Homo sapiens: one gene and its partners. The protein of the gene in region 3 purifies or fractionates together with the protein of the main gene of each other region. This does not show direct contact. Each region holds a gene or a part of one and is shown on either strand. Other genes may lie near its edges.

Region 1 (2,208 bases), on a different chromosome or scaffold from region 3:
AGATGGGTGGATCACGAAGTCAGGAGTTCGAGACTAGCCTGGTCAAGACGGTAAAACTCCGTCTCTACTAAAAATGCAATAATTAGTCGGGCACGGTGGCGGGCGCCTGTAATCCCAGCTACTTAGGAGGCCGAAGCAGAATTGGTTGAACCCGGGAGACGGAGCTTACAGTGAGCCGAGATCGCGGCACTGCACTCTATCCTGGGCGACAGAGCCAAGACTCCATTTAAAAAAAAAAAAAAAAAACAACACAAAAGGAAAGAGTAACCGAAAACCGAAAGCAAACTTGTAATTATAGCTTAAAGCACAACTGCAAGCCTTTTTCCCCAAGGGTATCTAAGAACCCAAGCTAAATTTGTCTGATGGAGCGTCTATACTCACACGCAAAAAGCCTAGGGAGCTTAGCTTACCTTTTCCCGCCGTCTTCCCTCCTAATGGAGGCCGGCCGGAGTCCACCCAAAAGACTACAAGCAAAATGCACAGGCTCTTTCTCTGGAAGCGTGAGTGGCTCTGAAAAGAGCCTTTGGATTGCTGGCAGCTGCGAGAGCTCACTTGGAGCTGGTGTACTTGGTGACGGCCTTTGTGCCCTCGGACACGGCGTGCTTGGCCAGCTCCCCGGGCAGCAGCAGGCGCACGGCCGTCTGGATCTCCCTGGAGGTGATGGTCGAGCGCTTGTTGTAATGCGCCAGGCGGGAAGCCTCGCCAGCGATGCGCTCAAAGATGTCATTGACGAAGGAGTTCATGATGCCCATGGCCTTCGATGAGATGCCGGTGTCGGGGTGGACTTGCTTCAGCACCTTGTACACGTAGATAGAGTAACTCTCTTTGCGGCTGCGCTTGCGCTTCTTGCCGTCCTTTTTCTGGGCCTTGGTTACGGCTTTCTTGGAGCCCTTTTTGGGGGCAGGAGCAGATTTAGCCGGGTCGGGCATGGCGGAGGAGAGTGAAAGAGCACTCAAATAACAAGAATGAGGACAAGCTGGGTTATGCCCTATTTATTTACAAGTCTATATGCAGATGAGATTGAGAAATTCTTCTGTCTGATTGGAAGTTACTCAGATGACGTTAATATCAATATAGTCCAATCAAAACACGTATATTCAGAAAGCTCATTTGCATTAAGAGGAAGCTGCAAGCTTAGCCAATGGCCCAGCTTCTTTTTCGCGCCCAGCAGCTGCTATAAAATGCGCGTCCCTGTAGGTTCCTTTCACTCACTTTCTGACTTAGGCCACAGGTCGTTTTACCATGTCTGGACGTGGCAAGCAGGGCGGCAAGGCTCGCGCCAAGGCCAAAACCCGCTCCTCTAGAGCTGGGCTCCAATTTCCTGTAGGACGAGTGCACCGCCTGCTCCGCAAGGGCAACTACGCTGAGCGGGTCGGGGCCGGCGCGCCGGTTTACCTGGCGGCGGTGCTGGAGTACCTAACTGCCGAGATCCTGGAGCTGGCGGGCAACGCAGCCCGCGACAACAAAAAGACCCGCATCATCCCGCGCCACTTGCAGCTGGCCATCCGCAACGACGAGGAGCTCAACAAGCTGCTTGGTAAAGTTACCATCGCTCAGGGCGGTGTTCTGCCTAACATCCAGGCCGTACTGCTCCCCAAGAAGACTGAGAGCCACCACAAAGCTAAGGGCAAGTAAGGGCTGAACTTTAAAAATGTAAACTTACAAGACAAAAGGCTCTTTTCAGAGCCACCCACCATTTCTACGGAAGAACTGAGCACTCTGTTCTCCAAACCTATCAGAAATTTGTGGCCGAGTTCAAGCACTGAGGCCATTACTTTCCTATTGGGTAAAATAAAAGTATTGAATCAGGCCTAGTAAATACTATCCAACTGCTACCTTATAACATGAAGGAACCTCCTTAATTGTCCCCTCCCCACAAACTGTCCTGGGTCTTTAAAAAACTTGGGGCCGGGCGCGGTGGTTTATGCGTCCTTAGCATTTTGGGAAACTGAGGCAGGTGGGTGGGGAGGGGAGAAATCTCTAGGGACCTGGAGTTCGAGACCACCCTGATAACGAGACCCCTGCCTCTTAAAAAAAAAATGACTGGGCGCGGTGGCTCACGCCTGTAATCCCAGCACTTTGGGAGGCCGAGGAGGGTGTATCACAAGGTCAAGAGATCGAGACCACCCAGGCAAACATGGTGAAACCCTGTCCCTACTAAAAACACAAAAATTAGCCGGGCGTGGTGGCGAGCGCTACTAAGGAGAC
Region 2 (3,500 bases), about 60 Mb from region 3:
AAATGAAATTATAACAGAAAAAAAGAATCTGGCATATTACAGTGAAAAGCTCCTAGGAAATCAGCATCTAAGAAGAGAAACTCATTATTATAACAGGTTTTTAGGATAATGCAGAGGAATGGAAGATTTCTCCCAATTTTACTTTTCATTTCAACCTTCTACTTCTAAGCACTACTGAACAATGGAATGCAGACAGAGACAGAGTTCTAGGTTTCTGCTTTCTCTGTATATGAGACTACATAAGGCTGGTCTTTATGTTAAAAGCAAACAAATGACAAAAACTAAAATTACATTTTGCCCAATGGTGCTGTTAGCCTGATAAAAGATTTTGCAAAGCTAACCAACTCTTTACATTTCTATTATAATCAGAGAGCTTTTAATACAAACTTTTGGGGTTTAATACAAAGGTAAATTTTATTGCTTCCACAGCAATAAATACTTCTCCAGTAAAATTACAACTCAAGAGAAATAAGCCCATAAAATTATTATGTAAGTAGGCCTGAGTGTTAGCTTTAGGAGGAAAATAATACAAATGTGAAAATAGTAACTAATAATAGCTATCATTGTAGGTGATAATACACAACACTGTGTTTTATATATCCTTCCATAGAAAGGTAACATTTAGTCTTCCAACAAACAAGTAACTTGCTACAGGTCACTCAGCTAGTAATGTCAAAGATAAATTACACATCAAAACCTGTCCAAAGTTAGTACTTACAATATACCAATGATGTACAAATGAAAATGATCAATTTATTTTATCAGAGAGGCACCAATACTATGATTCATCCTACCAGAAGGATATTAACCTGACCTCAAGAAACAATAAAGTATAGCACTTTACAATAAAGTATACCACTTAATTGAATACTAAACTGGGTGGCACAGAATGTAAATGGTAGAGAAGCTAAATAAAGGCCACCACTAATCTATGAATATTTCTTAAGATGGGTGAGACGTAAGTGTTGCATAGTTTAGAGGGAAAGAGGAAAGAACAATGGGGTAAGTAATTCAGAATGAAGTAAAAAACCCTGGGCAAGCACCAGGAAAAAAATAATGCCCGAGGAAACAGCTAAGAGAATAACTTTATAAGAGCAGCGATTCATTAGGTGGGGATCTCTAAATATTTGCTATCAGTATTACGTAACTACTTAAATTGCTTCTACTTATCCAAACTAAATTATTTTATAAAATTTTACATACCTTTCTTAATAGCTTTGTACTTCTCTTCATTCTCCATAAAATTAGGATCCATCTTGAAAACATCTAAAAAAAATGTAAAAGTTAATGTTTATTTTCTATATTTACATTTGTTGGTAAGCCTCTTTCCAACTAACATGCCCCGGACTTACTAAGAACATCTTCTGGATTATAGTCATCCTCCAGAGGGAGCATATGAGTGAATTGATCATCTTCTTCCACCAAATCAAGACCTTCTAGGATAATGGGGTGGTCCTTGAATCCATCTTTCCGTACAGCAAACATCACTTCAATCATATATTGAACTCTTTTGTCAATTTCAGACTCATGCAGAATGTTTCGAAGGCGTTCAAATATAGCTAAAAGTTAACAGAAAGAAAAGACAATAAAATAAGCAATAAATATAATAAAAACTTAACATCAAACTATGAATGTACACTTACCATTGATTCCTCTTGGTGACACTTGTGTTAATTTGAGGCCACATTCCTTAAGAAAACCAATAGCTACTTCAACGCTATCATCTGTTGGTCTTTCCAGGAGCAAAGTGAGCATCTCTAAGCATAATACTTCGTGTGCCTTAAATAAAATACATATACAAGGAAGAAACAAAATGCTTTTACATACATTAAATTATTTTTATAATTTCTAAAAATTAGTAAATCTGTTTACAATAATTATATTGCACATATGATGGGCAAAGTTTTATAAAGCACATGGAAATACTCCAAATATGGGATACAATTTTTCTATCACTTTTATTATCTGTCTACTAAGAATTTTCAGATGACTGTTTCAAAAATCTTAATTTTCTATGCTGAATACAACTATTTGAATTATCTTCAGAAGAAATATTCTTAGCCATTATGTACGGAAAGTGTCATAGATAAAATATGTTAAAAATCATATACTACTTTCTAATAAGGTAATTATTTTCATAATTACTACATAAGAAATAGTAATATGATTTATAATACCCTTCTCCATGATCACAATTCTTTATATACATTTCCCAATTCATTCTATCAGCAACTCTATTAGACACAAATAGTCCTTAAGTTACATGAATACTAATTTTATCACAAAATATCTTAACAACTTCTGGAACACAACAGTTTTGAATAGTCTATCTTTTTTTAAAAAATTAAATCAAACTATTACTGGCCACGTTCAAAAACTGACATTTATAAACAATGCCAGGAAGAGTGGGAATAAAATTCTATTGAGAAGTTTGCTAAGAGAAGAAAACGAACAACAAAGAATGTTTAAAACACCATACATATGCCTTTCTAAAGTCAGACAGTGATTTAAGATGGTGAGGAAAGAAGTCTAAATCTCAACTCAGGAGATATCTTCTTCCAGCTGTGCACAACATCAAAGACACCCACTACTTCTTTTTACTAGGGGAGGAGGGGTGTCAAACAGTCTTAGGTCAGTGACAAGAAAATACTGCCCTGTACCACAGCTGGAAGATGCAAAAAATTTATCATATCGAGTGTTTCATGGCAATGCCAAAAATCTCTAGTCTAAGTGTAATACACATTTAAAAACGGAAATATATCTCTGGTTACAGATGTGAAATTAAGTTTCCATGGTCTTAAGTAGCAAGTTATCACTGTAATAATATGATGACTAATTAGGTCAAAATCTAAAAGATTTGTAAGAGTGAAAGAATTTTCATGTAAATAAGAATCAAAATATTTAATATTAGTGAAATAAGACTAAGCATGACTTTAAAATTCTTCCTGTTATACATGATATTAAATTGGAAATGATAATATATATCTGAAGGAAACTTTTGAGTATGAGCAAGGACAATTTTAGCATTTTCATGGTTAAATAAAAGCTAAATCAAAACCATCAAATAATGAATATAAAATAAACACAAACTGAATAACAGCATGATAAAATTACCTGCATTTGAAACAGATTAAAATCGATCAACTCTATTCTATCAAGTGATTCTAAAAATATATGACTATACCTGTGTGGTTGCAAGGAATAGAGGTTTTTGTAGAATATCAGATATTTATTAGATTCTCATGAACAGCAGGGAATGAAGTGGAGGAGATACCAACTTTATTGTTTTATAAAAATGAAGGGAATGGTTCTTCAAAGGAATGGTTTGCAGTCAAGTAACCATGTACAGTATTAAGTCAGATTAATTTGATAAATATCTAAAGTGTTTTGATCAGCATCAAAGTGTTATATTAAAGAATATTAAATATGGCCAGGCGTGGTGGCTCACACCTGTAATCTCAACACTTTGGGAGGCCGAGGCTGGTGGATCACGAGTTCAG
Region 3 (3,500 bases):
ATCCAGAATCTACAAGGAACTTAAACAAATTTACAAGAAAAAAACAAACAACCCCATCAAAAAGTGGGTGAAGGATATGAATGGACACTTCTCAAAAAAAGACATTTATGCAGTCAACAAACATATGAAAAAAAGCTCATCATCACTGGCCATTAGAGAAATGCAAATCAAAATCACAATGAGATACCATCTCATGCCAGTTAGAATGGCCATCAATAAAGTCAGGAAACAACAGGTGCTGGAGAGGATGTGGAGAAATAGGAATGCTTTTACACTGTTAGTGGGAGTGTAAATTAGTTCAACCATTGTGGAAGACAGTGTGGCAATTCCTCAAGGATCTAGAACCAGAAATATCACCTGACTCAGCAATTCCATTACTGGGTATATACCCAAAGAATTATAAATCATCTTACTGTAAAGACACATGCACATGTATGATTACTGCAGCACTATTCACAATAGCAAAGACTTGGAACCAACCCAAATGCCCATCAATGATAGACTGGATAAAGAAAATGTGGCACATATACCCCATGGAATACTATGCAGCCATAAAAAGGATGAGTTCACGTCCTTTGCAGGGACACAGATGAAGCTGGAAACCATCATTCTCAGCAAACTAACACAGGAACAGAAAACCAAACACCACATGTTCTCACTCATAAGTGGGAGCTGAACAATGAGAACACACAGACACAGGGAGGAGAACATCACACACCAGGGCCTGTCGGGGGGTGGGGGGTTAGGGGAGGGATAGTATTAGGAGAAATACCTAATGTAGATGACGGGTTGATGTGTACAGCAAACCACGATGGCACGTGTATACCTATGTAATAAACCTGCACGTTCTGCACATGTATCCCAGAACTTAAAGTACAATTTAAAAAAAGGAAAAAAAATTGTTATCTATTGGTTAATTGACCAAACATTTCCCAATTTAAAACTTATAAGGGTTTTACATTAAAGCTATTTACCAATACTAAGCTCTTAAACAAGTTTACTGTCGTATTTTCAAAGAAAAAACTTAAAAATTAGATAGAAATTTCTACCTGATACCTTTGTCATTCACTGAAAGGCCTTCTCACCCTATTTAATTTTTTTTCTTTAAAGGAAGAAGACGGCTAACTATAATCACTAGTGACCCTTATCCTAGACCCTTATCGTAATGGGAAATGAGTATGTGCTTCATTCAATTTCTAAAATCAATTCTAAATCTTCTCCCAGAATCACAGTAGACTGGTTGAGAAAATAAATCTGAAAAGGGGAAATCATTTCTTCTTTTTTAGAAATTATTATTCTTCTGGACTATTTTTTCCTTTAGTGACAATTTAGTAAAACAGGCCAATGACCACTTTATATCCATGCACGTACCTAGAGTTAGGTTAATAAGTACGATTTCACCTACAGAATTGGAAAGACAGTTGTTCCTTTTTTTTGAGATGGAGTCTCGCACTGTCACCCGGGCTGGAGTGCAGTGGTGCGAATTCAGCTCGCTGCAACCTCTGCCTCCTGGGTTCAAGCGATTCTCCTGCCTCAGCCTCCCAAGTAGCTGGGATTACAGGCGTCCGCCACCACACCCAGCTATTTTGTATTTTTAGTAGAGACGGGGTTTCACTATGTTGGCCAGACTGGTCTCAAACTCCTGACCTTGTGATCCGCCCACCTCGGCCTCCCAAAGTGCTGCGATTACCGGCGTGAGCCACTGCACCTGGCCCAATTGTTCCTTTTTCTTTTTTTTTGAGACGGAGTCTTGCTGTCACCCAGACTGGAGTGCAGTGGCGCGATCTCAGCTCACTGCAATCTCCACCTCCCAGGTTCAAGTGATTCTCCTGCCTCAGCCTCCTGAGTAGCTGGGACTACAGGCGCATGCCACCACGCCCGGTTAATTTTTGTATTTTTAGTACAGATGGGTTTCACCATGTTGGCCAGGCTGGTCTCGAACTCCTGGCCTAAGGGTTCTGTCTGCCTCAGCCTCCCAAAGTGCTGGGATTACAGGCATAAGCCACTGCACCTGGCTGACAACTGTTCTTGTTTCACAAAAAGTCCAATCTATATCTCCAGCTGTTTCACTACAATTGTCCCCATGAGAGACCAGCTAGTTTATAAATTTGATCAAGCATCACATACACCCAGCTAAGCATACAAAGTTTAGGAAACCATTCCAGATCAGTAACTAGCCATTTGTTCCACCACTTTAAAAGCTAGTGTTGTTTCTCCTCCATACTGCACTGCGTTTTTAAAAACCTCTTTTTTTTTTTTTTACAAATTCTACTCTCCTACTATCAGCTTGTCCATCAACAACCCTGAAACTTCATACTTCAAACATTAGGTAATAAGAAATTTCTTTCCAGTCTCTTACACAGCAATCTCAGGCTTTTCACCACATATCCAATGATATTTTAATGAAATAGTAAACAAAACTCTTAAGATTCCTATCAAATAAGAAATGAGTATGAAAACTATCCTCACAAAATATCTCATGTTGGAATGTCTGATAAACCCTCAAGAAGCACTTACAGGAAGAAAATTTAGATGCTTTCAAGTTGTCCAGAATCAAAAACCCTAAAAATATACATTCTTATAGACAAAGATAACAAATACACGTAATGATGACTTCAAAACACTTCAAGAAATCCTGAGTCTTTGATTAATTTTATCATATTCTAATATTTTAAAATGTATAATGTACATATCTAATACATTCCAAATTATTAAGTTAATCAGAACATCCATTTAAACAAACTCTCCAATTCCTTATACTCTCACTTGGTGAGTTTAAGGTCTTCCCGAGCTTATTCAATTATGTATTACAGCAGCACGTAGGCTATCACTTTGCCCAAAGAGACTTTTTAAATTGAATTTTGGGTAGATGAGTGTGTACTAAAAAGTCTGTGGGGAGAAAAGACATTAAGGAATATCCTATGAAGCTCACATCAAATGATGTAATTTACCGTTAAGTCTTTGAATGCAGAACAAAGACATGAGAAAGAGATTTGGTATTAGCAAGCAACTCAGAAAAATATTCAACTGCCCAAAACCAAAAAGCCAACCTTTTCTTCCCCTCCTCCACCCAAAAAGTCCTGTAAAAAAATAAGCTAACCCCTTTCAAACATGTCAGATTGTTTCACACTGAGTTATGATTATATATTTCTGAAAAAAAAAAAATCTATCCAAAATGCAAATATAATTACAACAGCCTGTCTTGAGATAAAGACTACAGTGTATGAAAAACCTACAATGCAAAATACTTCAGGAGCAAAGAGACAGGCAGTCAGAGCTGAGGGGTATGAAGAAAGTCCTTTTTCTCACTTCACCTCATTAATGTCTGCAAGTAAACCAAATTGTGGGGAAATATTTATTTAGAAGAAAGTAAGGAGAGTTTTAAAAAATACAGAAGTGCATAGAAGCTAAAAGTCTTACAGTACACATTTAAGTGTTGTTATTCTCAAAGATTCACAACGTTTTAATAATGGTTCAACAAGGATTGTCAGAAATCCACT
Region 4 (2,966 bases), on a different chromosome or scaffold from region 3:
GCCTCCTAAAGTGCTGAGGGCTTTAATGGTTTCACATTGAAGCCTGAAGTTGCTAAGACTTAGGTTGTTTCTTATATCTGGTTTTAAGTAGATGAAACAACCAGAAACTTTTACTTGTGATACTCTACCATGAAGGATGCGGTAATGGCAGGAATAGCAGAATAATTGGTGCTTGTAAACATTTAAGATTCTCCTGTGGATTTTGGTGAGTGATCATTAAACTGTTTTCCAACTTGCCCTAGGTGTATTCATTTTCTGTCTAGCTGGTTGGAATGGGAAGTTGATCATTCTTTTTTGGTGTTCCAATACAACTGGTTTTGGCTATTTTGTGAAAATTTGAGCACTTTTTCTAGTAGAACCATTAAAATTTTATCTCATAAAAGAGTACTTCAAGCACTGTTAAAAACAGTGTAATAATTCCCCCCCCAAGACTGAGATGAAAATAAACAATATAAAAGCCCATATATTTCAGATTCTTATCAACGGATATACAACAATCATTATGGTTTAATACATTTAATTTGTTTTTTCAGGTGGTTCACAGAACCAGTACACTCAAAGTTTGACTAGATATTGCAACATTAAAATTTCCCAATACTGACAAGGATTCTAGTTCATCAGATACATTCTCATTGTTTTCCTCAAATAGAGGTGAATGAAGTGACCTTTTATTGACAGTGATTAGCAGTAATAAGGCTATTGTATGTAACTGGCATCCCCAAGAATTCTTTCCTCACTACCATTCAGTGTCATAGGGAGGATTTTGAAGCTGTTCTCTCGTGAAGCTTTCCTGAGCATGTCTTAGTAAAGATTCTAATTCTCTTTAGCACCCTCAGTGGGGGAAACAGAATTAGATACTGAAAGTATCTTACATTAAAACCCATGGCTTTAAACATGTACTTAGCCAATGGAGAAGACACTTCAGTGGGGCATTCCACAAATAAATGCTTTAAGACTCAGGCTAAATCTTGACCAAAAATTAATAAACTGACAAAAAAGATACTGTCTCAGCATTAACAGGAATTTTTTTTAGAAGTCACAGGAACTATATCTATTGCAATTAGAGATACTGAATAAGGCTTAAACTTAATAAATAACAAGTGAGGAAGATCAAATCCCAAGTCTGGCCACTTAGCAAAGCCTCATTGTTGAAGGTTATCCAAGAGTGTTTCCCCTTGTGCCATGGGGAAAATAATCCCCGTTCAATAGCTACTACCTATACCTACCCAGAGGTGCATGGGAATAATCCTATTCCGACAGAAGGTAGGGGAGCAACTAGGTAAAGGCCTTAGTGTCTGAAAGGATAGTGCTTCACACCAGATTCTCTCTGAAACCCTTAGTAATGACTATGATAAATCATGAGGCAATGACACACCTTTTACTGTTCTCAAATAACAAGATGTCATCGAACTAACTTGTGTACCAAAGTTCAGTTGTTTCCATAGTTTTATGATTTTACTATAACTCATTTTAGAATTTTAGGCAAATATTGAGAGAAAAAAAAGCCAGGGTAAAGGGTTGGAATAAAAAGTTCCCATATTACTATGGCAATATTTCAAACTACCTTCTTTGCACTACCACCCATCCCCCAACCCGTTTACCACTAAGGGGAAAGTAATCTAAGTGAGTTAAATGGAAGCATTTAAGTTACAGGGGTATGTGAGGGGTGGTGTTTATACCTTGTATATTCCACACACGGGAGCCAGTCCTTTCAGAGCCATAAAAAGCACACATAAAGGTTGAGGCCCATGGCAAAATGAGGGTCAGGTGAAATATATGGTAAAGAGCAGCCATCATGTGAATAGAACCCACCTGTTTTATATCAGGAACACCAGATTAATTATTCCAGTGAGTTGAAAACAGAATTTGGGATTGATAGCCATCCTTGCAGCCCAGTTAAAGACAGGATTTAAACTCTAGTCCATACACACTAAAGCATATCCCCAGCACATGCATGTAAACAGGAAATGCAGACAATCACAGATAATACAGTTGTAAATGCTTCACAGCTGAATTGGTAATGTGCAGTGGCTGAAGTCTTTGAGGGACAGTGGTGCTATCTCTCCAGACATTTTCTTGAGGTATTGTTATTTCTTGTTCCAAGTCTTGTAGCTCTAAGGCAGAAATCATAAGCAGTCCAAAAGGGCTGACACTGCTACTTTTTCCTTGCATATTTTCCTTTACACTTAATCCTGAGGACTACCACCACTTCGCATTTCTTCATTATGAACACGAATATGAAATTAGGCAAGCTGATTTTTACTAAAATCCCATGGGATAATATCCCCTATCACATTTCCTGAGGGAGAATTTCAAGACACAATGGCCAAAGCTGCCACATAAGGAAAGACAGAAATTCTAAGGCTCCATTTGTGACATGGACAAGAGCTCTGGACTCCTTTAGAGAGCCCAGAGACCTAACTGAGCTCCAGCCATTAGGAGGTTAGCCTTGGTACTTACTGGATATGTTTTTACTCCCACCCCACAAGCACAAGTGTAGGTAAATTATACCAAGAAATGCCTATTCGACATTTCTTTGCATGGAGGGATGCCAGAGGTATATGGTGGGTGAGGGGAGGAAGGGATGAGAAGAGAATCAGAATATGATTTTAAACCAATTCAGGTGAGCCTAACGTGGAATAATTATATTTTCCAGCTACCAGATCTCCTTCCTCCCCCTTCAAGAACATTAGAGATGCCATACTTGACCAGTGATCCATTCAGATCAACATTCTGCCTTTGAAAGAGGCACTAAGGAGTAGTTTGTTGAGGGACACAGTTACCCTCTCAGTTGTATATTACCAAGTAGCCCTACTTTTCTATAATTCCTTGTAGAAGGCCGTCATGCAAGGATTCCTCATAAACCTGCACCCATGTATAGTTTCTGGTGGCATCCCTTCTTAGACAATGAGCTCCTTACATTTCTGATTTGCTATGAGAAGTGCTTTCTTTACTAAGGCTATGAG

The links. Proteins that work in one complex are often made in the same cells at the same time.
Region 1: the proteins of EPB41L5 (region 3) and H2BC17 purify together in Homo sapiens (affinity purification with mass spectrometry; 2 studies listed by BioGRID and IntAct, with this or other methods). This does not show direct contact.
Region 2: the proteins of EPB41L5 (region 3) and CWC22 purify together in Homo sapiens (co-immunoprecipitation; 3 studies listed by BioGRID and IntAct, with this or other methods). This does not show direct contact.
Region 4: the proteins of EPB41L5 (region 3) and BLTP3A purify together in Homo sapiens (co-immunoprecipitation; 3 studies listed by BioGRID and IntAct, with this or other methods). This does not show direct contact.

The regions. Positions count from the first base shown.
Region 1 is NC_000006.12:27,892,184-27,894,391, reverse strand, and holds H2BC17 (histone H2B type 1-O), read right to left. Parts: upstream 968-2,208; 5' UTR 930-967; coding exon 549-929; 3' UTR 501-548; downstream 1-500. Other genes in the region: H2AC17 (histone H2A type 1), read left to right, coding at 1,243-1,635. UniProt on the Homo sapiens protein: Core component of nucleosome. Nucleosomes wrap and compact DNA into chromatin, limiting DNA accessibility to the cellular machineries which require DNA as a template.
Region 2 is NC_000002.12:179,969,298-179,972,797, forward strand, and holds part of CWC22 (pre-mRNA-splicing factor CWC22 homolog), read right to left. Parts: intron 1,780-3,500; coding exon 1,644-1,779; intron 1,560-1,643; coding exon 1,353-1,559; intron 1,267-1,352; coding exon 1,204-1,266; intron 1-1,203. UniProt on the Homo sapiens protein: Required for pre-mRNA splicing as component of the spliceosome. As a component of the minor spliceosome, involved in the splicing of U12-type introns in pre-mRNAs. Promotes exon-junction complex (EJC) assembly.
Region 3 is NC_000002.12:120,019,577-120,023,076, reverse strand, and holds part of EPB41L5 (band 4.1-like protein 5), read right to left. Parts: intron 1-3,500. UniProt on the Homo sapiens protein: Plays a role in the formation and organization of tight junctions during the establishment of polarity in epithelial cells.
Region 4 is NC_000006.12:34,875,049-34,878,014, reverse strand, and holds the end of BLTP3A (bridge-like lipid transfer protein family member 3A), read right to left. Parts: 3' UTR 501-2,966; downstream 1-500. UniProt on the Homo sapiens protein: Tube-forming lipid transport protein which probably mediates the transfer of lipids between membranes at organelle contact sites. May be involved in the retrograde traffic of vesicle clusters in the endocytic pathway to the Golgi complex.